Homo sapiens: one gene and its partners. The protein of the gene in region 6 purifies or fractionates together with the protein of the main gene of each other region. This does not show direct contact. Each region holds a gene or a part of one and is shown on either strand. Other genes may lie near its edges. The genes, in order: PTPRB, TAF4B, CUX1, CASQ1, AASDHPPT, ILKAP and MYO1C.

Evidence for each region.
Region 1: the proteins of ILKAP (region 6) and PTPRB purify together in Homo sapiens (pull-down; one large-scale study listed by IntAct). This does not show direct contact.
Region 2: the proteins of ILKAP (region 6) and TAF4B purify together in Homo sapiens (affinity purification with mass spectrometry; one large-scale study listed by BioGRID and IntAct). This does not show direct contact.
Region 3: the proteins of ILKAP (region 6) and CUX1 purify together in Homo sapiens (affinity purification with mass spectrometry, with the first as the bait; one large-scale study listed by BioGRID). This does not show direct contact.
Region 4: the proteins of ILKAP (region 6) and CASQ1 purify together in Homo sapiens (affinity purification with mass spectrometry; one large-scale study listed by BioGRID and IntAct). This does not show direct contact.
Region 5: the proteins of ILKAP (region 6) and AASDHPPT fractionate together in Homo sapiens (co-fractionation; one large-scale study listed by BioGRID). This does not show direct contact.
Region 7: the proteins of ILKAP (region 6) and MYO1C purify together in Homo sapiens (affinity purification with mass spectrometry; one large-scale study listed by BioGRID and IntAct). This does not show direct contact.

The regions. Positions count from the first base shown.
Region 1 is NC_000012.12:70,557,418-70,561,281, forward strand, and holds part of PTPRB (receptor-type tyrosine-protein phosphatase beta), read right to left. Parts: intron 3,580-3,864; exon of another isoform or gene 3,518-3,579; coding exon 3,254-3,517; exon of another isoform or gene 3,188-3,253; intron 2,208-3,187; coding exon 1,926-2,207; intron 662-1,925; exon of another isoform or gene 563-661; intron 1-562. UniProt on the Homo sapiens protein: Plays an important role in blood vessel remodeling and angiogenesis. Not necessary for the initial formation of blood vessels, but is essential for their maintenance and remodeling. Can induce dephosphorylation of TEK/TIE2, CDH5/VE-cadherin and KDR/VEGFR-2.
Region 2 is NC_000018.10:26,285,104-26,288,967, reverse strand, and holds part of TAF4B (transcription initiation factor TFIID subunit 4B), read right to left. Parts: intron 3,087-3,864; coding exon 2,469-3,086; intron 1-2,468. UniProt on the Homo sapiens protein: Cell type-specific subunit of the general transcription factor TFIID that may function as a gene-selective coactivator in certain cells.
Region 3 is NC_000007.14:101,815,906-101,820,473, reverse strand, and holds the start of CUX1 (Homeobox protein cut-like 1), read right to left. Parts: upstream 2,849-4,568; 5' UTR 2,835-2,848; coding exon 2,805-2,834; intron 1-2,804. UniProt on the Homo sapiens protein: May be involved in intra-Golgi retrograde transport.
Region 4 is NC_000001.11:160,188,963-160,193,511, reverse strand, and holds the start of CASQ1 (calsequestrin-1 precursor), read right to left. Parts: upstream 2,938-4,549; 5' UTR 2,761-2,937; coding exon 2,482-2,760; intron 711-2,481; coding exon 626-710; intron 1-625. UniProt on the Homo sapiens protein: Calsequestrin is a high-capacity, moderate affinity, calcium-binding protein and thus acts as an internal calcium store in muscle. Calcium ions are bound by clusters of acidic residues at the protein surface, often at the interface between subunits.
Region 5 is NC_000011.10:106,090,894-106,094,757, reverse strand, and holds part of AASDHPPT (L-aminoadipate-semialdehyde dehydrogenase-phosphopantetheinyl transferase), read right to left. Parts: intron 3,443-3,864; coding exon 3,281-3,442; intron 176-3,280; coding exon 104-175; intron 1-103. UniProt on the Homo sapiens protein: Catalyzes the post-translational modification of target proteins by phosphopantetheine.
Region 6 is NC_000002.12:238,193,452-238,197,315, reverse strand, and holds part of ILKAP (integrin-linked kinase-associated serine/threonine phosphatase 2C), read left to right. Parts: intron 1-2,445; coding exon 2,446-2,511; exon of another isoform or gene 2,512-2,534; intron 2,535-2,984; coding exon 2,985-3,041; intron 3,042-3,864. UniProt on the Homo sapiens protein: Protein phosphatase that may play a role in regulation of cell cycle progression via dephosphorylation of its substrates whose appropriate phosphorylation states might be crucial for cell proliferation.
Region 7 is NC_000017.11:1,478,823-1,482,686, forward strand, and holds part of MYO1C (unconventional myosin-Ic), read right to left. Parts: intron 3,737-3,864; coding exon 3,656-3,736; intron 2,064-3,655; coding exon 1,884-2,063; intron 1,804-1,883; coding exon 1,705-1,803; intron 884-1,704; coding exon 770-883; intron 681-769; coding exon 609-680; intron 1-608.

The DNA of each region.
Region 1 (3,864 bases), on a different chromosome or scaffold from region 6:
AAGTTCCACCATAATCATTCCTCATGAAACAGCACTGAGTCTCTCTTTCATGGCAGTTTTTGTCCTCTTGGGCACTCCCCCTTTTGGTAAATGCCTCCCTTAAATTCTAGCACCCGGGACTGAATACAACAGTCCAGTTGTGACTTATAAGCCTAGCCTCTAACAGAGTTGTATGAGCTCTTAAACTGAGCACCTGCGAGGCTGTTGGGAAAGGCAGTCTCATGTGCATAGTCTATCAACCCCCATTTGGCTGTGTAAGAAATGGCCCTTGAGCTTAAGATACTTTCTTACCAAGAGATGGAGAGCCTACACACCCTGTGCTGGGCTCATTGCCTTGTGTGGGAGTATCATTCCCTGTTGCAAGCTCAATGTATGCTCTTTTGTTCTGCTTAAGCATGTGTGTCACATGGTAGATGGCGAACACCAATGCTATAGTTGTCCTCTGAGGAGACAGGACAGGGTCCTTCTACTGTGGCCCGAGAGGGGTGCACTTAGCCAACTGCCCTCCATTGGCTGCTGGAAGAGACCACAGACAATGCGCCCTTCTGTTTTCTGTTGTCAGGGTTGAAGATAGCAAGTGCATCTCTGGGCAACTACTGCAGCTGGCTGTGGGGGACTGATGCATACTGTTGAGGCTGATCTTACTCTGTCTCCTCTCTATGTAAGTAAAGCTTTGTTCCATCCAGTGTTTGCATTGTGTTTCCCTGGCTACTCTAATACCAGATGCAATGGTCAGAAGTGTTTAGAGTTCTGCCCTGGGTTTGGTAACCAGTGCAGGGTGTTCTGCTTAGCAGATTTCATGAACACAGCCCACAGTCAGCCACGGAAAACTCATCCTGAGCTCGCCATAAACTAAAACTCTTAGTTCTTTTTCACATATTTCTCTTGACACACAAATAACTGCTCTTTGGATACAATGTGGCATAAAAGTTATACTTGTTATAGTATTAATGCTTATTAAAAAAATAAAACAACTACTTGCTTAAATTTCTAACTTTCAACTATGTATTTTATCAACAACCAATAACTATCTGATCTGATCCCAGAAGCTACTTATACTGGGTATTATTGAAACACAAATATTTGGATTAAAGTCCCTACACTGAATACCTGTCTTTCTTTGAGGGTGATAGTATCTATCCCAAAATGCCTTTGGGAAGAAACTGGTATATGCTTCGTCGTCGAAGTATTTTTATCTCAGGGACATACAGCAGTATATGCTAACTATGATCCCTCTGCTTCTAGTTTTGCCTCTTTCAATCTATTCTCTACACTGTACCCAGAGTAACTTTCTAAAGTGTAAATAATGATTATGATATCTCTGCTGAAATTGAGTGGCTCCAGTTGGTTCAAAATAAAGTTCAAAGTAGTTACCATGGAATACAAAATATTTTATTATCTGATTCCCTTAATCCTCACCTTTTATGCTATGGCCAAATAAACTTCTTTCTGTTCCCCTATTGGTAGATCTTGTACTCTCCCTCCTCTCTCATCTTGGAATATTTTATTCTCTCTACCTGGAATATTCTCCACTTCTTCCCCTACCTCTACCTGGTAAATCTCTTGCTTTAGGTTTCTATTTGGATGTTTCCTTTTCCAAGAAGTTCTCTTGTATTGGGTCAGATTACCTAACAAGTGTCTCCATAGTACCATTTACTTCCCTCATCACACCCAAAATATAATGTCTATTTACAAATAGTACGTCCTACCTAATTGTAAGCCCCATGAGGGCAGAGAGAGATTTATTGTCCCTTGTTGTTAATGTTGAATGAACGAACAAATCTACAGAGACTTCTGCCTGAATTCAAATCCAGACCAATCCCATGTAAAAATATGGATTTAATCCAAGCCCTATTTGAGTAAGATGTTGAACATATACTTCCTCTACTCCATTTGAGAAATAAGAGTAGCAAAACATGTCATACTTGTCCTCACAGATCCAAAAATTGGTTTGCTGTAAGTTTTCCAGGAATCACCACTGACAGTCTTGACGTTGAATTGATAGGATCTCCCTGGACGAAGACCATACACAATGCGTCCTTCTGATTTTCTGTTGTTGTAGGGGTTGAAGACAGTAAGTGCATCTCTGGGCAACCACTGCAGCTCAAAGTCGTTGTAGTCTGTCCAGTCTGGGGGCCCTTTCCACGTGATGGCCAAGGATGTGTTTGCAATGTCAGCAAATGACATAAGACTGGGAGGACTTGGAGCTGAATGTAGGAGAAAGTGAAAAATCACATAATCACAGCTATGCCATAACATATACAAATAAGATAGCTGAGCAACATCAGACACACTTTTAATGTACTTTGTAGGAAGAGATAATATGATAATAATATAGTAGCAGGAGCTTTCATTAATAGTGTTTATTATGTGTAAGGCACTGTCTTCGAGCATTTTATGTACTTTTTTTTTTTTTTTTTCACTTTTTTTTTTTTGAGACAGAGTTTTGCTCTTGCTGCCCAGGCTGAAGTGCAGTGGAGTGATCTTGGCTCACTGCAACCTCCGCTTCCCAGGTAGCTGGGATTACAGGCACCTCAGCCTCCCAAGTAGCTGGGATTACAGGTGCCCACCACTACACCTGGCTAATTGTTGTATTTTTAGTAGAGACAGGGTTTCCTCTCGTTGACCAGGCTGGTCTCGAACTCCAGACCTCAAGTGATCCACCCACCTCGGCCTCCCAAAGTACTGGGATTATAGGCATGAGCCACGGTGCCCAGCCTCATATACCTTTTCTTAAATATTCATAGCCAGATCTTCCTTACCATGGTGCTGTGGAGCATGAGTGTGCCCTGAATGGGTTACAAGTGTGTGAAGATATTAATTCCATCAGATTTTGGGGTACAGGGCTGACGTCCACAGACAATTATGTTCAGTTGCAGATAGCCTTGTTGATTAACTCCAGGGTGGCACACAGACCTCTGTGTGTGCCCATGACATAAAAACAGTTAGGAAGCACTGGTGATAGCCACACAGTGATGATGTATATGATTATTCCCACTTTGCAGATAAGAAAACTGAGGCCTAGAGATGCTCAATGACTTGCCCAGATTCATAGAGCTAAGCTAAGGACATATTTCTTTTGGACCAAAGCCTTGTCCTTTATCTGTTGTCCCACAGTCCCTTCCCAAATTCAGGGGCTAGCTCAGGGTATATCATTATTGGCTTTATCTCTTGTCATTAAAATCAGAATCAAAATGTGTCTCTGGAAGCTACTTCCCACCATCCCTTGGCCATTGGCACCTGGGCTTCTCACCTGTTCTGCTCTCCGCTGTGACTTTATTGCTGAGATCTCCACTGTGAGTTACCACCCACAGCACGTACTTCCTTCCAGGAACAAGGCCTTGAAACCGCCACTCCGTCAGGTCCTTGTCTTTCCAGTTTTCCTTCTTTGTGCCATTGGGATTATAGAGAATCAGCTCATAAAAGTCAAAGTCCCCAGAGGCTGGACTCCAGTTGAACCAAAGGCTGTCTGTCGTGTTCCGATTGGACCCCCTGAGATGACTCACAGAGGCTGGGACTTAAACAGAAGAAAAATTGTTACTGAGAACAAAACAGAAACACAGGCATTTTGGCCCACAGGTGAGAGTATATGCTATGTTGGGCATGTGGGTGAGTCGTACATATTGTAGTCAGATCTTGCCTACATTTCAGGCCATTTAACTTTAAGGGCATATGGACTAGAGATATGGTATAAATTAAAACAAAACAAACCAGGTGGTGACTTCTAGATGCTTGCCACATGGACCCTGATAGGCATGTAAAATGAAATCTTCATAAATGATGAATAAATCGTTGTCATTTAGCTTATGAAAAAGGCCCAGAAAATGTATATACGAGGTTCCAGCTCCTCCCAGTGTGGCCTAT
Region 2 (3,864 bases), on a different chromosome or scaffold from region 6:
AACTTGAAACAAAGGACAAACAAGAAAGCAGAATTCACAGGGAAAATGAAATTATTAAAAATGAAGGTAGGAAGTAAAAAAACCCTAAAATTTACCATCAAATTTTGTTGCATTATTTCTTTATTGAAATGATTTATAATGTATAACAAGTCAAACCTACAAAACAAAAATGCTGTCAAGATATTATCATGAGACAGCTTCCTGCTTCAGGACATTCCAGAAACCTAGAAGTTCTTTCTAAGAGCACCATACCCTAATGGAAAAGTCATCTGGGTTCTAGTCTGAGATCCATTACTTGACTGTTTTTTGTTTTGTTTTGTTTTTGTTTTTTTGAGATGACGAGTTTCGCTCGTCACCCAGGCTGTAGTGCTGTGGTGCGATCTTGGCTCACTGCAACCTCTGCCTCCCGGGTTCAAGCCATTCTCCTGCCTCAGCCTCCCAAGTAGCTGGGATTACAGGTGCCCACCACCACACCTGGCTAATTTTTGTATTTTTAGTAGAGACGGGGCTTTGCCATGTTGGGCAGGCTGGTCTCAAACTCCTGACCTCAGGTGATCCGCCCGCCTCGGCCTCCCAAAGTGCTGAGATTACAGGCATGAGCCGCTGCGCCCGGCCACTTAACTGTTACTGGATGAGTCAGCTCAGAATTTCTGGATTCTTAGTTTTCTCCCTACCTTTTTATCATAAAATTATTTTAAAATCCATAGCATATAATGACATGCTTTTAAAACTATGTAGCTATAAAGTATTATTTCACCCCAGGGACCTATATGCTATAGATGCTCAATAAAGATTAGCATTGATTCAAGAAACAACTATGACATATAAAGAGGATTTCAATTCTGTTCAGTGCTACCAAAAAGAGGCCTTTCCTTGGGGCAATTCCTCTATTCCAGTGGTTCTCAAACCTGGCTGCCCAGAACAATGTTTAAGAATCACTGCTTCTAAAAATGTTGTTTCATCTCTGAGATTAAATTCACGTACCCAAGAGAAATCCTGCAAGGCAGTTACATTTCCCCACTTGAAAATGAGATGCAGAGTGGGAAGGGATGAGAAAAGATTAGTGCCCAGGAAATGACCATCATTTATCTGCTCAAGAGTCTGACTACTCTCCAATTCTGGTCACGGATCAACCCCTTTCATTCTATGTCCAAAGCTGCCCTGTTGCCTCAGACGACAATCACTCAGATACCTCTTATTCTGATAAAACAAACAGGGCTGGAAAGGCTACCCAAGAAGCAGAATGAACCAAAACAGAGATTTAAAACACAGCGTCTAATGCAAAGCATTACAAAAGAGAACAAGGACATTCACCAAAAGAACAGCAAGCTCTGTTATCGTAGAAGATAGGGAAGAACTTTACTAAAAACGTTATGATTTTTAATTAATGCATCATGTAGTATCTCCCATGAGTTAACAATACTTTCATAGCCTTCTGGTAAAACTTACCTTTTCTTAAATAAAGAAGAACATTCTAAACACTAATCGACAAACAGCTAAAATTTCCTTCTTTCACCCAAGAACCTCCCAACCTACCAAGTTTAGCAAAAAAACACAACAATCAGACAAAACAAAGGACTATTCTGCAAATATTCTGGGCACTTAAAACATTACAATATAATAAACAACCACAAAAAGCTAGAGAAGTATTCTAGATTAAATGAGCCAGGTACAGTGGCTCATGCCTGTAATCCTAACATTTTGGGAGGTCTAAGTCGAGAGGAACAGTTGAGGCCAAGAGTTTGAGACCAGCTTGGGCAACACAGCAAGACCCTCTCTCTACAAAAAAATAAAAATAAAAACACATTATTGGGACAACTACAGAAATACTGTACCAATATTAATTTCCTGTGTGTGACAACAGGTATGTTGTGGTTATGTTTTACAAAAAAAACCTTTTAGGAGATATACACCATGCACTGTCATAATTTTTGCAACCACTCTCAGGTGGTTCAGTAAAGACTTACGTGTGTGTTTGCTGCTGGGCGTGGTGGCTCATTGCCTGTCTGTAATCCCAGTGCTTTGGGAGGCCAAGGCGGGTGGATCATTTAAGGCCAGGAGTTCAAGACTAGCCTGGCCAACATGGAGAAACTCCATCTCTAACAAAAATACAAAAATTAGAAAGGCGTGGTGGTGCACACCTGTAATTCCAGCTACTCAGGAGGGTAAGGCATGAGAAATGCTTGAACCTGGGAGGTGGAGGTTACAGTGAGCCGAGATCGTGCCACTGCACTCCAGCCTGGGCGACAGAGTAAGACTCTGTCTTTAAAAAAAGGACTTATATGTGTGTTTGTGGGTGTGAGTAGAAAGAGGAAAACAAAGCAAATGAGGTAAAAAAAAAAAAAAATTAATTGGTCAAACCCGTAAACAGTATATAGCCTTACTAGTTTTCTACTAGTCTTACCAGTTTTCTGAATGTTCAAAATTTTCAAAATAAGTAACTGGGGAAGAAACAAAATGTTACTCACTAGTTGCTTGACTTGAACTGCCTGTGGAATCCCAGCTGGTTGTGAAAGGACAGGGCCCGGCTGGGCAAGTTTGATTTGAACTGGAGTCCCAATAACAGGCTTGTCAGATGTGGTCCCAGCAGAAGAAACAACAGGTTTCACAGATGGAAGACAAATAGCTGCACCTGAAGTTTCTCCAAAAGTTACTGCTGGAAGGGACAGTGTTACTGCTGTTCCAGAGACAACTGGCTTTTCAGGTTGCAGTGAGACCGTGGTCACTGTGTTTGCCACAGATGTCACAAGTGGTTTTGAAGTCTGAAGCAAACCAGTTCCAGCTGTTGTTCCTCCTGTTGCAGCAGTTGGGCCCACAGAATGAAGTGTCACAACTCCAGCTTTTGCTCCCACTGGACCAGCAAGTGGGTTCAAAGTTTGCACTGACACAGTTCTGGGTGCTGTTGCTCCAGAAACAATAATTGACTTTTCAGACTGGCTTGAGGACACTGTAGTTGTCACCACAGGAGAAGTTGTTACTGTTGTAGTACAGGTAGCAATGACCATGTCACTAGAAGTCTGCTGAACACATTGCTGGATGAAGCTCTGGGAGTTAGGCAGAAGTTGTCGTAAGGCAACCACGCTTTTCTGGAAATGCAGAGGAATGGAAAAAAACACTGCTAACAAATCAGCTACTTGTGAAACAAAATGTGGTATTTCATACCTTTACAACTTAAAACCAATCAAAAGTGTATCAAGTATTTCAGTTGAAGACAGCTTGTATCACTTACTTATATCCTGCCAATATCCAGGATACAATCAATTTAAAGCCCAAGTGCCTGTTTTCCAATATGAAATTACTATATCTCAGTATTAAACTTATTTGTATTCCCTCAATATCAATTTGGTAAACACTGTATTATACTTTTCTATAATCATCTAAACCCTATAATAGATCATTAGTAACTTCAGTATCTATAAGTTTATTTAAACCACAGCAGAATCTAGGTCTCTTCATTAAGTAACTTTCAAACTTTGGATAGAAATAGGTGCAGTGGCTCATGCCTGTAATCCCAGCACTCTGGGAGGCCAAAGTAAGCAATCACTTGAGGCCAGGAGTTTGAGACCAGCCTAGGCAACATGGCAAAACCCCATCTATACAAAAAATACAAAAATTAGTCAGGCGTGGTGGCACACACGTGTAGTCCCAGCTACTCGGGAGGCAGAGGTTGCAGTGAGCTGAGATCATGCCACTGCATTCTAGCCTGGGTGACAGAGCAAGACCCCATCTCCAAAAAAAAAAAAAACAAAAAAAAAAAGGAAAGGAAGAAATAGTCTTTAAAAGCCTAGGCAACATGGTAAAACCTCGTCTCTACAAAAAACACAAAAATTAAATTAGCAGGGCATGGTGGTGCATGCCTGTAGT
Region 3 (4,568 bases), on a different chromosome or scaffold from region 6:
TTGAATAATGGTTAGAGTTGCCTTTTACATACCATTTGTGTTACAATTCGTCAGATATACCTGTCTGTGAAATTTACATGTGACAAATGTGTAAACTATTTGAAATGGAAGCACGGGTAGGAATTTAACCTACCTCTGTAGGATTCTTCATATGATGAATTTCTCTGCTTACGAAATGTATGAGTTTTCCCCTAACAAACGTGTCCTTCCTTCATTTCACTAAAAACAGACGTTCCTGGGGCATTACAGAGGAGCTGAAACAAATGTGGATTTTCTACTTCTAGTCTTGTGTTCTCTCCTAAGACACAGAAAGTGAGTACAGCCTCAGGAGTGGTTTTGATTGTTTACTGCTACAGGTAGACCCAGAAGGGAATCAGAGAGCACAAACTACTGTTCCTTCACAGCTCCCATATAAACCCTGATGGGTTTGTCTTAATTGTACAAAAACAGGAGACTTTTTAAATAGCCATTAAAGGTTTCAGGCTCAGCACAGTTCACCAGACTGCATTTTTAAGGTTAGCTCAGTGGATTTAGGAGAGAATCATTCCTGAAGGTATTGGACTATTTGGCCCTTTCAGCTTTCTTAGGTTGGCTAACTACCGACAGAAGATACACGAAGCCGAGGATGTAGTCAAAGGGCTCTCTGTGGACTCAACTGTACCAGGAGTTGTTGCATTAACTCACCACTTGCACCTTTAAGGAAAAAAAGAGTTTCACATAGGAAAAAACTTAAATCAACTGCCAATGACCCCTTCCCACATCCAACCTCAAAGACACCCATATTAAAAGAACCAAGAAAACAAAAGCAGGAGCAGCAGTGGTGTAATTTCTTGAACTGCTCTTTTATAAAGGGTACTAGATGGGACATTTTAATTAAAATAATATACTTATTATGGCAAACAGTACTGGACAGCCAGTAACATACACACTTCCACAACAGGGGGAAAAAAAGCCATCAGAAAATGGACTTTCAGCAAAACTGAAATTGTTTTTTGATTCTGAAAAAGAAGGCAACTTTTCAAGTTTACTTTTGCAGAAGCTGCTTAAAGGGGAAGGCTGGTCACCATGTGGGAATAATGTCCCAAAGGGAAGGCAGTCATTGGCGGGCCCCGTCCCAAAGAGTTCAAAGCTCCACTAACATACAGAGTGCCATGAGCTTTGTCTTAGAAAGTGTCCTCCTTTCAAATATGTATTTAAAAGACAAATTTATACAACAGTGCTTTTCTTATTTAAAAAGAAAAGAAAACCTGGTTTTTACAAGTCTGAGATAGGATAAAAAACTTGTCCAACTAGTCTTAGCAATACCAAAGCACTGAAACTTCCATACCACAAGCCTTTGGGACTAAAAAGGAAACGGAATAAAACACAATCTTCAGAAATTCTCTTCCTGAGCACACACTCCTGTGCCAAGGCAGCAGCTTCAAGACCCAGGAAGCCGAGGGACAAGAACCCAGTGAGCCAGGGTTGCAGAACTGCGGAACGGCCCAACCTCACCTGGACCCGCTGACGTCTCCAACCTGGATTTCTCTCTGCAAAGACCGATCAGCCTCTTTACCCCCAGGTGGCAACCCAATCTCAGTATAAAGAGGTCTGGAAAAATGAGAAAAATCTGGAACTAATGAATTCTCTCCCAAACTCGTTCTATTGACTCACTGACTATCGGTGGGAATTAACCAGACACCAACTCCAAAGGCCTCCTCACCGCCCAGAGAAAGAACCAGATTGGCCTGAGACTTGAACTTTGACATTCCGTATTCGACTAAAGTTTGCAAACCCATAGGAAATCATCTAAGGCCAAATCGTTAGCAACCACCAAAAGCAAAGGAGTAAAGAGGAATGAAGTTCAAATAAGGGACTTTGTTTTGGGGTTTGGTTTTGATTTCTTCTTAATATCCACATAAAGTGCAAGTAAACTGACATGGAAACTTTCGATGGAACCCTGGAGCCCTGATCCCCTGAAGAAGTAGCTAATATGGGGGACAGGAAGGTTTAGAGTTCTTAAAATCTAGTAACTCTAGAAACCAAATCCATTTTCCAGGCAATTTTGCCAGGATGCTTTAAAAAAGACACTTCATTGATATTAAGCTAGGATGTCACATTTAGGAAGACAAGAGAGAAAAATAATAATAATGTTTGTCCTTAAAACTCCACAACGGGTTTTACAGTAAGCACAGGAATTAAATTATGGTAAAAGGGAGCTATTTTTACTAAAACAGGGTAGACCAATTTATCAAAAATGCCATTCGGCTGTGTTCATTACATCCAGGAATCTAATTTACACAATAGACACTTTGGAGTAATCTATTTTAGTCAATAAATACTTAAACTCCTTTAAGTTTTAATCTTATCGGAAATACATATTTCGCATAGTCTTCTTCCTAGTTAAGCGAGAAATTTCAGGAAATTTCATAACGACTATGACTCGGCTTTATCGTTCTTAGTAGGCAAGAGCAGAAAACAAGCATATACAATTAAAGTTGTCAGATTCCATTTAAATATGTTTTAATCCAACCCGCTTCGTTTGATACAAGCCTGCATCTCGAGCTTTGCTCCCAAAGGTATTGCGGTAGGTCACTGTCACCAGTCCTCCAGGTTAGGAAAGTTCAGCCAAGTTTATCTTCACGCACACCTTAGCAGTTGGGAGTAGCTGCAGTTCCCCAGGGGCCCTGAGGAACCCTCCTATCCCCTCCCAGAGCACCAGGCCGCCCTAGAGCATTCTAAGCCGCGGGACCCGGGCACCCCCCGACATCCCCGGTTCCCTCCGCGCCTGCAACCTCGGGACTTCTGGCCCACACGCCGCTCACCTTCAACCTGGCTCCGGCTACGCACAACATCCACCTGGCAGAGTCCCGGGGCTGTCCCGGCGCCGCGGGCGCCGAGCTGGCACGTGCGGGGCGGACCCTAAGGGTGCGCCGCTCCTCCGGGCGGGGGGTGGCAGGCAGGCACTCGCCCCTTGGGCACGGCGGCGACTCGGGCGCGGGCCGGGGAGCCCCGGCACGGTCCCCCCGCGGCGCCGGGGACTCCGCGCGCGGACCACCGCCCGGCATGCCACGGTCCCAACGGGCCCCCGGGGCTCTGCTTTCGAGAACCCGGCCCGAGAAGGCATCTCCGAGCGCACCCGCCGCGCGCTCCATGGCGGGCCCTGCAGAGAGGGCAGAAGCCCCGAGGGGACGCAAGGAAGGGACCCGGCGCCGCAGGTCACCGGGGGCCGCCGGAGCCCCCAGGCGCGCGGCGATCGCGGCTCGGACCGGCGGCGGGGAGGCAGCGTACACTGCCCGGGCACCCGGGGGAACAGCTTGGGGCCTGCCTAGGGGAAAGTTGCAGCCTCCTCCTCCCGCGCCCGCACCCGGCGGTCCGGGACACCGGGACCCAGCGACACTGCGCGCGGGGCACCCCCGCCGCCCCTCGCCAAGTTTCCCCAAAGAGCCCCCGCGGGGGTCCGCCACGGAGGAACAGGTCCGCGTCACCGACACAGGCACACAAAAGAGCGCGGCGGCCGCGAGGTGCGCGGGTGGCCCCGGGGCGCTCCCCGGGACGTAAACAAACCCGGGGGTCCGCGCCGGGAGCCACACGCGGGGTGCCGGAGCGGCGGCGCGGCCCGGGCCGGTGACAGCCGGGGGCGGCGGCCGGGGCCGGCCGGGGGTAGCGAGCGCGGGCGCCTGCCCGGCCACCCGCCCGCCTGGCCGGAGCCGGGCCGCGCCGCCGCCGCCGCCGCCGGTGGCCGCTCTGACCCTCCCCCGAGCCGGCGGCACCACAGCGCCACCAGCCCCAGCTCCGCCGCGCCGGCGGCAGTGGCGGCGGCTCCTCCTGGAGAGGCAGGCGCTTCACCCCCCGCAGCAACTCCCCACAAACTTTCCCCGGGAATACGGCGGGCCGGGGGCGCGGGGCGAGCGGGCGGGCGGGCGCCACCGCCGGGCCGCGGCCCCCTCCCGGCGCCCGCCGCCGCCCGCCCCCCGCCGCCCGCTCCCCGCTCCCCGCTCGCGCGCGCACCCCGCGGGCCGCCGGGGCCGCCCCCTCCCCGGTCCCGCGGCGGCAACGGCGGCGGCGGCGCTGGCGGCGGCGGCGGCGCGGGGCCCGGGGGGGCGCCCGGGGTGGGGGCAGACACCGGGGGCAGTGGTGGCGGCGGCGGCTCCCGGCGCCATCTTGGGCTGATCGATGAATTGAACAAAGAGGATCAATTTCCGATCAAGCGAGTGATCAATGGGGGCCGGGGAGCGGGAGGGACTCGGCCCCGACTCGGCCCCGCGGTGCCCGGCACCCCCCTCCTCCCCGCCGCCGCGGGCCCCCCGGCGGCTGGGCCAGCCCGGGGCCCCCGGCGGAGGCCGCGACCGCCCGCAGCCCCCACCCCCGGGCGCGAGGCCGAGCGCGGAGGAGCCTGACCTGCAGCTGCTGTAAATCAAAGCGCTTCCAATATTGAAACATCGATCCCACATTGGCCGCCATCTTGAGACATATTGAGACGGAGTGAGCGGCTGATAGAGAGGGGGCTGGAGTTCAGGAGCCGCCAGGAGGCAGCAGGCGGGCGGCGCCAAAACCCGGCCTGGAGCCGGCCGCCGCCGCCGCCACCG
Region 4 (4,549 bases), on a different chromosome or scaffold from region 6:
AGTAGCTGGGGGATCAGGTAGGGTGAGGGGAGGGAATAGAGAGGTGTAGATTCTAGCAGTATTTCTCCCCTTCTCTGACCGCAACGACTAGAGATGAGTATTCATGCCACCCCCTCTGAGCACTCTAGTAGCTGGTTCCCAGTCAAGCTCTTTAATTGCTATTACTGACCAGATGACTTCATTATTACTGACCACCCCTCCCCCATGCATGTCCAGAATCCCGTCTCAAGCCTGTGCTGCCCCCTAGTGGCTGACTGCTCTAACAACCATGGCTCTGGATGGGAGGGGTTGGAAGCGGAGTTTGCAGAGGTCTGGCCAGCCCCGCCTGTATTCCCCGACTCCCCTTCCCTCCAGCACCTAGCCATGTTTTAAGGTAAGTATAAAGAAGGCCTCCCCCACCTCTTTCTGGGATTTGAGCATGGAACTTCATAAGGAATAGAGAGGCAGAGTCTCCGAGCCATAACCCTCCCAACCTCATATTTTCTCACCCCCTCTTTTAGAATAGACATAAATCTGAGAGATTCCCAAGCCCCTCGGATCCCAAGGACTGCCTGACAGGTCCTCCGCCCTAAGCCTCCCCTTGTCTCAATGCCACCTTCCCCTCCCCTGCCCTCCCCTCTCTTACCTAGTTTCTTGGCCACAGCTGCATCCTTCTCAGAGTCTACCAGCCCGAAGCCAACACCCTTGTCTTCTAGGACTTGGGCTGCTAACTGGAGGGAAGGATTATGATTAAAATTAGCCCCTGGAATTTTTATTATCCCCTATTCTCCCTCTCATGCTTTCAAGTTGGGTCAGTTGAGGTGCGGGAGATATAAGAGTTGACCTTGACCCTTTGCTAAGATCCAGAATATCCCCCAAATTCCCTACAGCCACACAGTTCTGTTTTTGGCTCAACTTAGTTCATGAATATTGATTGCTCATTTGCAATGTGCTTATTATGTTGGACTTGAAGACACTGCACTCAATACTTCCCAGTGCCTAAGAGGTACTGAGGAGTCTGGCTTCAGAGTGACTGAGGGCCCCTTCCCTCCTTCAGGGTTGAGTCCTGCATTCCATCCTGCTCAAGTCACACCTGGAGGTCCCTGTCCCTGGTCAAGGGCCAAGCTCAGTGTGGGGTTGATCTTGGAAGTCCCTGAGATTCTTCAGAGTGACTCCCAATGGGAAGAATTTTGGAGGGTGGGAGGGTAGTGGTGGGTCTGGTCATGTTGTTGAGGAGTTGGGGAAGGCCAGAGAGCTGAGATAAGAGGTCACCATTTGTTACCCCCCAGAGGGAGAGAGACTGACAGCGACCGGACAGTTCTCCCCATCAGGGCCCAACTTTCCCCTTTCGCACTCTACTTCAGCCTGTCCTTAGGCTGTGGACAGTCACACCTGGAGGTCCCTGCCCCCATAAGCCTTCCAGCTTAGCGTTCAACCCTGATTTTCTCTGCTGTGGGCACAGCTTGCAGCTCTACCCCCACTCAGCACAGACTCAGGTACTGTGATTCTCAGAGGGGTGGGGAAGGGAGGCGGTTGGCAGGTGGATGGCCAGGGATACTGAGCACTCAGGATAAAAATACTCGGCTCATTAATCAGATGGCAGGTTCTAGCACCCAGCAGGGGTGCACAAAATGAGAGCCTGTGGTTCTGGTGTCTCACCCTGAAATGCTCCAAGCTCTGGACAAGCTGAGGCCAGAGAAGGGGCCACAGGAGCTTGGACAAGAAAACTCACATCCCATTTCCTAAAGGTGTGTGTGTATGAACACATTCCCAAACATAGGTTTTTTTTCTTTTCTTATGATAACTTCTTTCTCCTTTGGGCCTGAAGTCATTTTGGAGGTGAGGAGACTTTTCCCACAAAAAGAAGATTGGGGAAGACATTCTGACACCTCCTGCAACCATAAGAATTTTCCAGTGAGGGCATCCAGCTTATCCAATGGAGACAAATGGGGAATTAGGGAGGGGGAAGGAAGAGAGAGGGGACTGGGAGTCCAATGGGAGGCATGATCTCTAGGAGATATTTAAACATGGCATGCAAGTATCATAACATTTACATTTACACTCAGTTTGGATCTCTTTGGGGTGCAGCCCCTGAAGTATGTGGAGAGGACGTGTTCTGGCTAAGCAGATGGGTGGGGTAGGGGAGTGCAATATACACTGCTGTTCTCCCCTGGCCCTCCAAGTACCTCCCTTTTTCACCCTCAGTGTCCTAGCCAAACCTAAGTCAAATACTACCAGCCTCCTATAGCAGGGAGGGGAGCTCTTCCTGCAGCACCCCTGCTAAAGGTTTCCTGACGCTGATAGTACTTTTGGGTTCCTGAGACTCTGTTTCTCATTTGACTAAAGCCACATGCCACTTGCATCCTGTTGGTCAGGACAGGGTTCCTACCACACTGCCCCTCACCCCCAGATCCCATCCTCAAAGAGCTACATGGGTGTAGGATAGGGGATTCCGGAGAGGGGCTAGACATGCTCTGCAGGCCTGCAGTGCCCCCAACTCACCTCCAGGATCAGCTCCTCCATCTCAAATTGTCTTTGTGAGGCCTTGTCATCCTCGGGGGGTTCATGGTAGAGGAGTGCCAGCACCTCATACTTCTTGAACACATTCTTGTAGTTCTTTGCATTGACATTGATCACACGGTCCACACCATCGTACTCAGGGAAGTCCAGCCCTTCCTGCCCCTGTACCCCTGACTTGGGTGTCCCTAGCACCAGCAGCAACAGCAGTGCCAGCCGCAGACCCGGCACAGCTCTGGGCCCCATCCTGTCTGTAGCACTCATGGAGGTAGTGGGATCTGGGTTGGCTCTCCTGGTCCAGAAGAGGTTAGCTGGGGTAGGGAGGGGCCCCTGGGTCCCAGATTCTGAGTTAGGGGCTCAAGTGGGAGGGGGGATTGGGGAATGGCCCAGAGCAGTGGACAGAGGGCACTGCTGGGTCCTGGAGAAACTGCCGACAGAGCCAAGGGAAAAAGGGTCAGGTGGAGGAATAGGAGCAGGGGGCGGGGAGGGAACCGGAGCTGCCCCCTGAAATTGGCACCCCTCAGTCCCCACCTGGTCCTGTCTAAATATGTCTCCATGGTTGGCAGGAGAGACGGATAACCTTCTGAGGCCAGGACAGCTCCATGCGGGCCGGAATCCTCCCACCTCCTACACTTCTACCCCAGGCTCCCAGGGGCTCCTTCCCTCCCCCTCCTCCAGTGTCCAGGGCACCTCAGCCCCGGTCCCCACACTGGCCTAAGAGCTCATCGCCATATTAAGAAAGGAAAAGGAGAGATGCCGGAGCTAAAAATAAGACCAGATGAGTCGGAGGTAAATGAAGCTGGGGCTGGGGGAGGGGAGGTATAAGGGTAATTAGGGTGGGCCGAGGGTGGGGCAAGGGTAATTAGAAGTTAAATGCAGTGGAGAGGAGGAGCTAACTGGGTCAGAGGCTAAATTGATAATATAGGACAAAAGGGGGACAAATGTGGTATTGGCTCTATGTCCTAAAGCCTGGGAATCTTCTGTAGGTGAAGTCTGATTCTGATTCTTTGATACTATGTAGGAGAGTGGGGCGATAAAAGTGCAAGCCAGGCTGCAGGAAAGAGACCCCCTCCACTTTCTTTTAAAGAACCAGGACCAAGGATGAGGTCATTCTCTGAATAAAAGATGGAGCCGCGTCCAAGACTGGCAACCTGGCTCAGCTCCAGCCAGTTTCCTTTGCTTCACTCAGCACTCCTAACTTGGGAATGCAGGGAAGGACAGGGCTGGCCCAGATCCTGTCCTGTAGAGATGTGGGTTTGGGGTTTCTCTGCCTATAAAGCCCACAATGAGAAGGGGTCTGTCCTTTGGTTGCCACCTGTGTGTGCACTCCCTACCCTGATCCTATGGGACTCGGTTTTCTGGGGCACAGTGGGAAGGGAGGTTTTCCCAGGCTGCATGCTTCCAAGGAGAGTGAATAGCTACTATTTATTCCCATGTCTTTGACAAGACAAAGAGGATCAGGTATTGACACCAGGGCAAAAAAAAATTAACATTAGGCAAGCATGAAGAGGTGAACCCTGTGCCCTGAACCAAGACTGATGATTAATTCTGTGCACCCGAGATCCAAAGCAGAGATGGGCGGGTAGGGGCTTAAACTTCTGGATCCAGCTTGGGGGGTGAGGACAGAGTAGTGAGTTTAACTCTGGATACGTAGGAAGGAAGGATCCTCTTCATGGCCCTCCAGGGTTCTTACTATGCACAGGTAAACTGAGGCATGAGGGAGACCATAGAGGGTCAGATCAAAGTCACATGCTGCCACTGCACCCTGAGGTATCTCTGATTCTAGAGGGACAGTGGTGTTTTTTTTGTTTTGTTTTGCATCCAGGGAGGGTCATGTAATTATGTTAGCAGAATAACTTTTCCACATGTCTGTGTGGTGGACCTTACACAGCTGAACACGGAAGGCCACAGAAAATCTCAAAAGCATGGCAGGAGTGAGGCCAAGAGGGACAGCTGTCACTGTAGCAGGAGAGGTTGGAGCTAGCCTAAGCACAGCACGTTGGAGCTGAAGAGACCTCAGAAGCCCATATCCTGGTCTCCCTGAAGAGTGGCT
Region 5 (3,864 bases), on a different chromosome or scaffold from region 6:
TCTCTCTAAACTGATATAAGGCAAATGACTATTTCCATCAATAAAGAGCAAACTTAACATTGATTCATGCTATTTAGAAAAAAGAGAAATCCTAAAATCTTACATCCTGATGTCTAGATCCATCGGGTTTCCTAAGAGCAACTGCAACAAAATGGTGCTCATCTATTTTGCTTTCCTGAAAGATAAAAGGTAAATAAATATAGATTATAAAATATGTAAACCTAGATGTAACTTTGTTTACATTTTCTAAATCTCATTCTCTCTCTCTCTATATATATATACATATACGTACACTCACACGCGTGCATATATATATTTCCCCACCTCCGCTAAACTACTTTAGAAGTTACATATGTGCTGGCCCTTTACTCTTAAATACTTCAACATGTATTTCCTAGTAGGCACATTCTCTTACATAACCACAGCAGTTAATAACGTCAGTAAGTTTAACATTGAAACAATACTTTATTAGCTGTATTCCAAATTCTGTGAATTAATCCAATAGCATCCTTTGTGGCATATCCCTCCTCCAGAACAGGAGCCCAGTAATGGGCAAGTAGGGACAAGTATTGCATTCAGTTGTCATGTCTTGTTAGCCTTTCTTTTGTTTTTTATGACATTAACGTTTTAAAGTACAAATTCCCTAAATCTGCTTTTTATTAATAAAATATTGCTCATTTGGGGTTTGTTTGATATTTAATGAGTGGATTAGGTTATGCATTCTCAACCAGAATACTACACAGGTGATGTGCCCTATCTAGAGGTACTTGACAGCTATCTGTCCTTCACTGGTGATGTTAGTATGTATAATAAAGTACAAGGTTAAAAAAAAAAAATCAAGTTGCAACATTGGTATGTAAGCATTTAGTAAACTACATACTATCACGTATGAAAAATCATGGTGGAAATTTATAGGTAAAACATAACCAATATGCAATTTTCTACTTTCCTCTACATATGAGACAAAGGGGAAGGGGACTTTAAAATGTAATATATATTGAAGCAGTTACCAGAAAAAATTGTAAACACTTAAAAGCTGAACAAACTTTTCACTGAAAAACCACTTTACTAAAGCATTCTTCCATAAAACGTCAGAAGAAACTACAATTAGAAATAGTACTTAGGGAGCTTTTTCATTTTTTATCTTCTTCTTCCTATCTTCATACCTTCAGGTACCCAAGTCAGCATAAAGTGAAATTCAGTAAGGATAAATTTAAGATATGTTTAAAGAGGAAAAATATAAGACTAAGTATCAGAAGATTTACTATGTCAAAGTTATCGCAAAGTAAGTCTGCTATGTAGCCCTGTTCTGTTTTCTCTTTAAACAAACAAGAAAAAAGTAACTGGAATGTACAAATTTAAAAATATCTAAAATAATTTTTCAGAAATTTAGCATATAAGATATAGTTCTTATATGTATTGAATATTTCAATAAATAAGAATCATGCTTAATGTATAATGAGAGGTGTATGTACACTAACAATTGATAGTTGGACACTAAAGAATGTTAACTAATGGATATACTGTTTTGAAACTTTCATTTTTTAAATTTTTTGTAGAGGCAGTGTCTTGGCCTCCCAAAGTGTTGGGATAACAAGCATGAACCACCACATCTAGTCCTTAGCAGTTATTGACCCAGCTCTCTTCTTCAAAATGCTTTCTGTCCTTGGATACCAACACTACTCTCTTATACCATTTTGGTCATTCTTTATCAGTCCCCTCCACAAATTCACCTTTGAATATTAGTATAGATGCTCCACGACTCACGATGATGTTATATCCCAATAAACTCACTGTAAGAAAATATGGTTACATGGAAAATGCACTTAATACACCTAACCTACCAAACATCATAGCATAGCATAGCCTACCTTAAATGTGCTCAGAATACTTATATCAGCCTACAGTGGGCGAAATCATCTAACACAAAGCCTCATTTATAATAAAATGCTGAATAGCTCATGTAATTTATTGAATATTGTATTGAAAATGAAAAAAGGAATGGTTGCGTGGGTTCTGCAAATATGAATTCTACTGAATGCATTATCACTTTCATACTGTCATAAAGTCAAAAAAAGTTAAACCATCATAAACTGGGGACCATATATATTCTCAGGGCTCTATTCTAGGCCTTACTTCTAACTTCTTGTGGTTTCAATTTCCACTTCTCTCTTCATAGATTCAATATATAGCTGTTCCTTAGGTAATCTCACAGTTTCAACTTCAAATCCATGGTTTCAACTACCATTGACATAATGGTTATACTTATAACCATTATGATTATAATTTTTTTCCTCTAGCCCAGCCCTCCATTCCATTCACCTATCTGACATCTTCACTTAGATGTTTGGTATCTCAAACTTAACATCTCATTTATTTTCTAGTATTCAGTATCTCAACAGATGATCTTGTAAGTCAGAGAACTGCTCTATAGCCCGTTTGCTGGACACAAGCAGGACCAATCACAGTATAATGACTGGTCTGGAGATAAACAACTAGCCCAAGCTAGGCCAGGGCATCCCTTCTCTAGGATTTTTGGGCTTGGAACAGAAAGTGAGTTTACCAGTTTGTTTAGGTTTTTAAACTGTAAATTGTTTATAAACTGTTACATGCAACAGTATGTTACATGCAAGAGCCATGTTTTCTGTCATGCAGACCAGAGAGGCTGAGAAAGCTGGTGTACAGAATGAGAAACATGGGTGGGAGAAAACTGAAGCCAAAATGTAGAGAAAGGCAAAACTAGGAGACAAAAAGAGCTCTAAATATTTCATCCCCTAATTCTAGCTAATACTGGGGACAGTTACTGAATCACTCTAGTAACCTATAATACTGTTTTGGGGGGTTTTTTGGCTGTGTGTGTTGGCTTCTCTCACTAGCAACCAGGAACTGCCAGTGACAGAAACAAAATACAGTAAGAAACCAAAATATTTAACTTGATCAATACCTTGTAGGATCTACCAGCCTGATCTGGAATCTCTCTTAAATACCCTCATTATGGCCCAGCCAAAGTGGCTGCGTTTGGCTGTTCATACATGCAAAGCTCCTTGTCAGAGCCTCTTTTCCTTTCCCGTACTGAACTCACAATGACTCATCTTTCAACTTCTTTCAAGTATTAGTATAAATGTTACATGCTCTCATAGTAGCCCTGATTTCACTTTCAGAGCAGCAGGACTGGATTCAGTTGCGTCCAAATTCAGTGACTAGCTTACCCAAATTAATCACACATACATGCATAAAAAATAGAAATTCTTAGTTTTAACAATTCTAACAAATTTCTTACCTCAAATGCCCATTCTTTTTCTTCCTCTCCATCCAGGAATAAACGTGTTTCTTTATAAACTTGGCCTATATCCAAGTTTAATGGAGATAGATCAAATTCAAGCCGCTGCAATTCAAATCCTAGTCCAACACCAATGGCTTTTATGAAGCTTTCCTTAAGTGCCTAAGATACAGAAAGACATTTTCTCTTAGAATTTGGTGGACAAAAATTTTTCATAGAATCTACAGGTCCAAAAGATAGGGAGTTTCAATGCTATACTACATTATGGCTATATAGCTATAACCTTTTTAAAAAAAAACCCTTACAGCATGAAAACAAACCATCCATATGATCTTAGGGCAAATCATTTAAGCTCTCCGTGCCTGTATCCCCTCGTATGTAACCTGCGATGATGATAACAATACCTTCCTCATAGGGATGTTATGTACATTAAATTAACTAACTTAGAGCTTGAAGTAATGTCTTCTGGCATGTAGTATATATTATCAGTGTTTGTTATATAGGACCTCATGTGTATTAGTTCCTTTATGACAGAAAATATTATTTATCAATGGTAATGATTTGTTTTAGCTTTAAGTAAGTAC
Region 6 (3,864 bases):
CGTTGTGATTGTTAGACCCAATGTTTGGGCAAAAGTGACCTACTTCGGGATATTAGGAATTCTTGTAAGTGGATTAATACATTGAGTAATGGTTATCCTAAATACTTTTTTTGGGTGCTGGGGACAGAGTCTGGTTTTGTCCCCCAGGCTGGAGTGCAGTGGCGCTATCTCAGCTCACCGCAACCTCCGCCTCCCAGGTTCAAGCAGTTTTCCTGCTTCAGCCTCCCAAGTAGCTGGGGCTACAGGCACCCGCCACCATGCCTAGCTAATTTTTGTATTTCTGGAGAGACAGGGTTTCACCATGTTGGTCAGGCTCATCTTGAACTGCTGACCTCAGTCCTGACCTTGACCTCCCAAAGTGCTGGGATTATAGGTGTGAGCCACCACACCTGGCCATACTAAATACTTTTTAATGGCTTTCTTCTGCTTCTTGTATACTTCTAATAGAGTCTTTATGTCACTTGTAAGAAAAGTGAAAGTATTTGCAATTCCTTAATTTGTTTAGGGTCATCCTGAAGGATTAGAATACATTTTCCCATTTGTATTAGGGATATAAAGCAAAATAGTTATTTTTTGTTAACTCAGGAATTTCTTGTGTATTTTAGGTACTTCTGACGCAAAGACCCCGGGAGAAATTTCATTCCCTTAAGTTTATAAATTTTTAATTAAAGCTTTTGTTTTTAAAAGAAGAAAGTTGATACCCAGCTCATTTCTAAATGGAGGCAAAAAGATGATAGGGATGACCCTCTTGGGGGATATAAATTTATTTGTTTAGTTGAATTGGTGTTTGGCCTGGCACAATAGCTCATACCTGTAATCCCAGCACTTTGGGAGGCTGAGGCGGGTGGACCACTTGAGGCCAGGAGTTTGAGACCAACCTGGCCAACATGGTGAAACCCCGTCTCTACTAAAAATACAAAAATTAGACCAGACATGGTGGCTCACCCCTGTAATCCCAGCGCTTTGGGAGGCTGAGGCAGGCAGAACACTTGAGGTCAGGAGTTCAAGACTAGCCTGGTCAATATGGTGAGACCATGTCTCTACTAAAAATACAAAAATTATTTGGGCATGGTGGTGTGCGCCTGTGATCTCACCTACTCAGGAGGCTGGGGCAGGAGAATAGCTTGAACCCGGGAGGTGGAGGCAGTGAGCGAAGATCACATTACTGCACTCCAGCCTGGGCAACAGAGTGAGACTCAGTCTCAAAAAAAAAAAAAAAAAAAAAAAAAGTGAATTGGTTTTTAAGTGAGTACTTTTTTTTTTTTTTTTTTTGTGACAGAGTCTCACTGTGTTGCCTAGGCTGGAGTGCAGTGGCCCAATCATGGCTCACTGAAGCCTTGGCCTCCCTGGGCTCAGGTGATCCTCCCACCTCAGCCTACTGAGTAGCTTGGACTACAGGCGCCTGCCACCACACCTGGCTAATTTTTGTATTTTTTTCATAGACATTTTTTTGCCATGTTGTCCAGGCTGGTCTCGAACTCCGGGACTCAAGCAATCCTCCCACCTCAGCCTACCGAAGTGCTGGGTTTATAGGCATGAGCCACTGCGCCTGGCGTAAATGAGCACGTTTTTATACTTGAACTCTGAGGAGCAAGAGGTGGGATAGAGCTGGTGTGTTTGGTTGGTGTGTTGAACTTTGCAGGAGGTGAACGTGTATACTTTCAACTTGGATTCTTGTGTGCCAGTTCAGATATCTAATAGCTTAAACAGAATTTCAGGAAAAAGCTGGAAAATAAGGAATGGTCGTTAAATTTTATGTGGAAAAAGATAATTGGGCATAAAACATTTAAGACATACTTTTGGAGTGTAAATCTTCACATTTTTTGTTAAAAGAGTTTCGTGACTTTCTCCTGAGGCTATCTGTCTTTGGTTACCTGAAACTCCTTTATTTTCTCCATAGCTATTTATTGAATCAGACACTGTGCTGGGGCTAGGGACACCAGGTTCCAACAGATTTTCTTCCCTTGCAGAATGTTACCGAAATAGGATTTTTATAAACCTGTAGGTCTTTGAAGGCCCCTCCTCCACCCCACCCCAAATTTCTGAACGTCTATCAGGAAGTCTCAAGTATTGTTTTCCTGGTCTAGAATCAGTTTTTTTCTTCCCAGGATTCTATTTTAAAGAAAGACTTTTAAATGTTTCATGCTTTCAATAATGAAATTATCAAGAAAATACTTGTTTTCCTCAAAATATTCAGTGGCCCTGAAGATGCCTGTTAGGGCATCAATCATTGCTTTTATGTTGACTGTAACTGTTGGAAACAGATGTCCATATTAAAAAAGCTGTTAAGAAAATATGTTTTAAAAATTTGCCCAACAGGAAGGAGAAAATTAGAATCTAATAGCAAACTTGTGTCAAAGCAGGGGAGACCACATGATCTTCCTCTTTGAAAATCTGTCCTGGGTGATGACCATATGCTCTCTAAACAGGTTTTCTGTGTTTTAGGGAAAGAAGCTCAGAAAGGACCCCTGCTCTTTGATGACCTCCCTCCGGCCAGCAGTACTGACTCAGGTACAGTCTTCAGGCTCTCCCAGGTGTGTGTCAACGTCTCTACTCATCCTGGGATTGTAGTTGTCTCAATCTTTTTCCCTTTCCCCCATTTTCAACACACAGATGTTTTAGGTGTTGGACTGTCTTTAAGTTTTGAATCCATGGCATCAGGTAAGGCAGAAAAATCTGCTAGTCGCTAGCCCTGAGAAGTACTGCGAGGAAATGTGGAGCAGTTTTCTCTGGTTCATTTGAGTATTTATTTTACTACCTGAAGTACAATTTAACTTTTTAAGGCAGATTTTTATTTCCTTTGAAATAATAGGACTTTAAAATAGGTTCAAGATATTATTCATTGCAGTATGAGTTGCCACTGGATTGACGCAAAGTTTTGAGTTTATTTCAGTAACCTACATAGGTGTCCTGGTGGGATGGATTCTGAAACTTAAGTCTTACATATTTTTTGTGGGCTCACTAAGTGTTCTGCTGTGTTTCAGGATCAGGGGGACCTTTGCTTTTTGATGATCTCCCACCCGCTAGCAGTGGCGATTCAGGTAAGTGGTAGGAAAAATCCAAGGTGCTGATGGAAATAATACATAGTATTTTACTCTTATGTGAAATTTATGTATAGGTTTTAACGGGATTTTGGATGACATTAAGTCATAATACAGCATAAGGTTTACTAAAACTATAAACAGGCACATTAATTGGAAGCACAAAGATAATACTGTATCACTTTCTGGTGATATTAACTTCTTGAGGTTCAGATTGTTGGAACTGCCTTTAAGAATTAAGAGTTCACTAATTTACTCTTAACTTTGTTATTAACATTTTTTAAAAATTCAGAGTTCATTATTCCGATTTGCCTTGTTAAACAGAGTGCTTGACTCAAATGTATCGAGGCTAGTAGCATTGGCTCTACCTCCTCCTGAAAATGTTCCTTTTCATGTCCTAATTAAGTAGAAGGGAAGAATAGAGCAGATTCCTGTTGCCATTGCGGCAAAGGTATGATTCTGTCTCATGAGAACTTCTTAGGTAGAGCTCCTCTGGTTGGGGAAGGTGAGGGTTAGGAGAGGTTGGGAGATAGATGGTGTGGGGGCAGTGGGGAATGCAGGTAATCCCATTTCGTATGCAGGTATATTTTCTATATTTTAGGAAAAGTACTCCAGTCATCTTATATAAGAATTCTCAATCTTCAGGGCTGTAGACCCATACCAAAAAATTGCAGCATCCTCACACTCACAGTGTGGCCTGAAACCTTCCCAATAAAGATAGTACCCTTAGTTGTAATGAAAGTTAATATGTTCTGGCTGGGCGTGGTGGCTCACGCCTATAATCCCAGCACTTTGGGAAGCCAAGGCGGGTAGATCACTTGAG
Region 7 (3,864 bases), on a different chromosome or scaffold from region 6:
CCACCACTCTGCACTCCCAGCTCCAGCAAGCCTGCAGTATGGGGAGGGGTGCTGGTAGTGGGACCTCAGGGAGGACAGGTGGCCACCCCAGAGGGAAGGTGGTAGAGGGACAGGAGGCCTCCTTCCCGAGGTGGGAGTCTGGTTCTAGCCGGACTGTTACTCTCTTCCTATGTGACCCTGGCCAGCTCACTGTGCTGCTTCTTTTTTTTGAGACAGAGTCTAGCTCTGTTGCCGTGATCTCGGCTCACTGCAACCTCCACCTCCCGGGTTCAAGCGATTCTCCTGCCTCAGCCTCCCGAGTAGCTGGGATTACAGGCGCCCGCCACCATGCCCGGCTAATTTTTGTATTCTTAGTAGATGGGGTTTCACCATGTTGGCCAAGATGGTCTCGAACTCCTGACCTCAGGTGACCTGCCCACCTCAGCCTCCCCAAGTGCTGGGGTTACAGGCGTGAGCCACGGCGCTCGGCTCTCACTCTGCTTCTCTGAGCAGCCTTCCTTCCATCCCTCCAGCATTGCTGAGGGAACCAGGCGAAGGGGAGTGATGGGAGTAGGGGCTGCCTTGGAACAGCTGCCCCTCCACACCCGAGGGCAAGGGCCCGGCCTCACCTCCTCCCCCTTGGCGATGATCTTCCTGTGTGTCAGGGCTTCTCGCAGCGTCGAGCCTTCCACGCTGAGGAGCTGCCAAGGGCAGGCGAGGACACGGTGAGGGTGCACCCCCAGCCCCCGCCCCCGCCGTCCTCCCGTCGCCCTCTGCCCGCCCCACTCACCCTGGTCAGATACTTGAGCTGGTTCTCGGTGGTGACCTGGGCATTGCTCTCCTCGTTGGCAGCAAAGTGGATGTTGCCCAAATGAAGGACGCTGGCCACGATGCTCAGCAGGTCCTGGGGGAGCAGGCCGGGGGCAGGAGGGGGTGAGAGGGGCCAGAGAGCCCCAAGAGGGCAACTAGCAGATGGCCATGCAGGGGTGGGTGGTGAAGTGTCGGAGAGAAGGGGCTGGAAGTGGGAATGGGTGTTAAAGGTGGAAGGTGATTCTGCGGGTGGGATGGGCACGGTGGCTGACGCCTGTAATCCCAGCACTTTGGGAGGCTGAGGCGGGAGGATCATCTGAGGTCAGGAGTTCGAGACCAGCCCAGCCAACATGGCAAAACCCCATCATTATTAAAAATACAAAAATTAGCCAGGTGTGGTGGCAGGTGTCTGTAATCCCAACTACTCAGGAGGCTGAGGCATGAGAATCACTTTAACCTGGAGGCAGAGGTTGCAGTGAACTGAGATCGCACCACTGCACTCCAGCCTGGGCGAAAGAGCGAGACTCCATCTCAAAAAAAAAAAAAAAAAAAAAAAAGGGATTACTGGCCCACGCCTGTAATCCCAGCACTTTGAGAGGCTGAGGCAGGCGGATCACCTGAGGTCGGGAGTTCGAGACCAGGCTGGCCAACATGGTGAAACTCCGTCTCTACTAAAACTACAAAAAATTAGCTGGGCGTGGTGGCGGGCGCCTGTAATCCCAGCTACTCGGGAGGCTGAGGCAGGAGAATTGCTTGAACCCAGGAGGCGGAGGTTGCAGTGAGCTGAGATTGCACCACTGCACTCCAGCCTGGGCAACAAGAATGAAACTCCGTCTCAAAAAATAAAAAACAAAAAAAAAAGGAGATTTTGGGGGTGTGACAGGAGGAAAGCGAGGGTCCCGGAAGAGGCCTCACCTCCACTTCATCCTCGGTGAAATCAATGACTGTCAGAGCCTTCCTGACGACCTTCCAGTCACTCTTGTCGTTGATGGAGGAGACTTTGGCACACTGGCCCTGGAGGAAGGGCACAGCTGGGTTGCCAGCCCTGGCACCAGATCCCTGGGTGGCACCTGCCCTCCCTGCCAGCCACTCACCTTCACCAGGTACAGGTAGCTCTGGGGGTTCCGTTCCAAGCCCAGCCTGCGAAGAGTCTCCTCCTCGCCCCCCTCCAGCAGCTGGTAGAAGATGTGGAAGTTCCGCTCCCCATGATTCTGGTGCACCACTCGTGACTTTTCCAGGAGGTAACTGAGGATGTGGCCACCCACGGGGGCACCCTGTGGGCAGGGCAGGGCATGAGGCCGGGTCACGGGGACTGGGAAAAGAGCCCACCTGCCCCTCTTCTCCCCTGCACTCCTGGGCTTTGGCAGCCAGACCTGGATGCCAATTCCAGCCCTGCCACTAGCTGCGTCGGCTCAGGCACGCCACCCACGCTGGACTCAGTTACTTCATCTAGGAAATGGGGAGATTCAACTCCAACGACCTGGCTGCTCCACCTGGATGCCTGACAGGTATCGCAAATTCAACAGGCCTGAAGCTCAACACCGGACCTTCTCCCTCTTCAAACAAGCTCCTGTTAGTGTCTGCCCTCCTTGGTCAGTGGTGACTACATCCTTCTCGTTGTTCAAGCCAAGGACTTGGCAGTCCTCCTGGAAGCCTGTGTTTCTCCAAACCCTACATCCAATCAGGCAGCTCATCCTGCTGCCTTAACCTTTAAAACATCCAGAATCCAATCACTGCTCGCCACTTCCACTGCACCACACTGGTCTGAGCCAATGTCACCTGTCACCTACATGATGACATCAGCCCCCTAACCGTTTTCCCTGCTTAGCCTGGTTCCCCTCCCATCTATTCGTCTACTCCCAATCTCCCAGTGAAGCAGCTAAAGTCATTTTTTTATTTTTTATTTTTGGAGACAGGGTCTTGCTTTCACCCAGGCTGGAGTGCAGTAGTGCAATCACAGTTCACTGCACCCTCGAACTCCCGGGTTCAAGCAATTCTCCTGCCTCAGCCTCCTGAGTAGCTGGGACAACAGGCACACACCACCGTGCCTGGCTAATTTTTGTATTTTCAGTAGAGGCAGGGTTTCACCATGTTGGCCAGGCTGGTCTTGAACTCCCGACCTCACGTGATCCACCTGCCCCAACCTCCCAAAGTGCTCAGATTACAGGCATGAGCCACCTCACCCAGCCCGATGACTCCCCTTCTACTCAGAGTTAAAAAAAAAAAAAAAAAGTTCTTGCAACAACCCAAAAGGGCCTGCACCGTTTGGCCTCTCTCTGTTCGCGGGCCCCTGCTCTCTTCTCTGGCCGCTGTGGCCTCCGTGCTGTCCTGGAACACTTCCAGCACCCTCGTATCTCAGGCCTTTGTCCTGGCTGTTCCGTTCCCGCTGCCTGGACAGGCACCTGCACAGCCTGCTCCTATCTCCATCAAGCCATTATTTTCTATTTTTTTTAGAGACAGGGTCTCACTCCGTAGCCCAAGCTGGAGTACAGTGGCATGATCATAGCTTAGGGTAACCTTGGACTCCTGGCCTCAAGTGATCCTCCTGCCTCAGCCTCCAGAGGAGCTGGGACAACAGACATGTGCCACCCTACCCAGCTGTCAAGCCTTTATTAAAATGCCACTTTCTCAGTGAGGCCTACCCTAATACGACCGCACCTGCCCCCCACTCCTTACTGCATTTTATTTTCTGCCACGGCCTCAATTTCCCTGTTTATTGTTTATCACCCTGGAAGGCAGGATTTTTGTTTGCTTTGTTTGACTGCTGGAATTGCAGCACCTGGAATAGTCCCTGGTACCCAGTAGGTGCTTCACACGTGTAGAGCCTACTGAATGGGAATCCTCACGACACACACATCCATGGTACCTTGAAGTCAAACTGCACATCCATGTACTTCCCGAACCTGCTGGAGTTATCGTTCCGGAGGGTCTTGGCATTTCCAAAGGCCTAGGAGTGGACAGGGGTATGAGGGACACCTGGCACTCTCCCCCTGCCCTCCCCACCCCGCCTTGTAGCTACTGCTGCCCCTCCCCTCCCGCACTGGGCTTCTCTCCCTGCCCCTCCCCTCCCCTCCC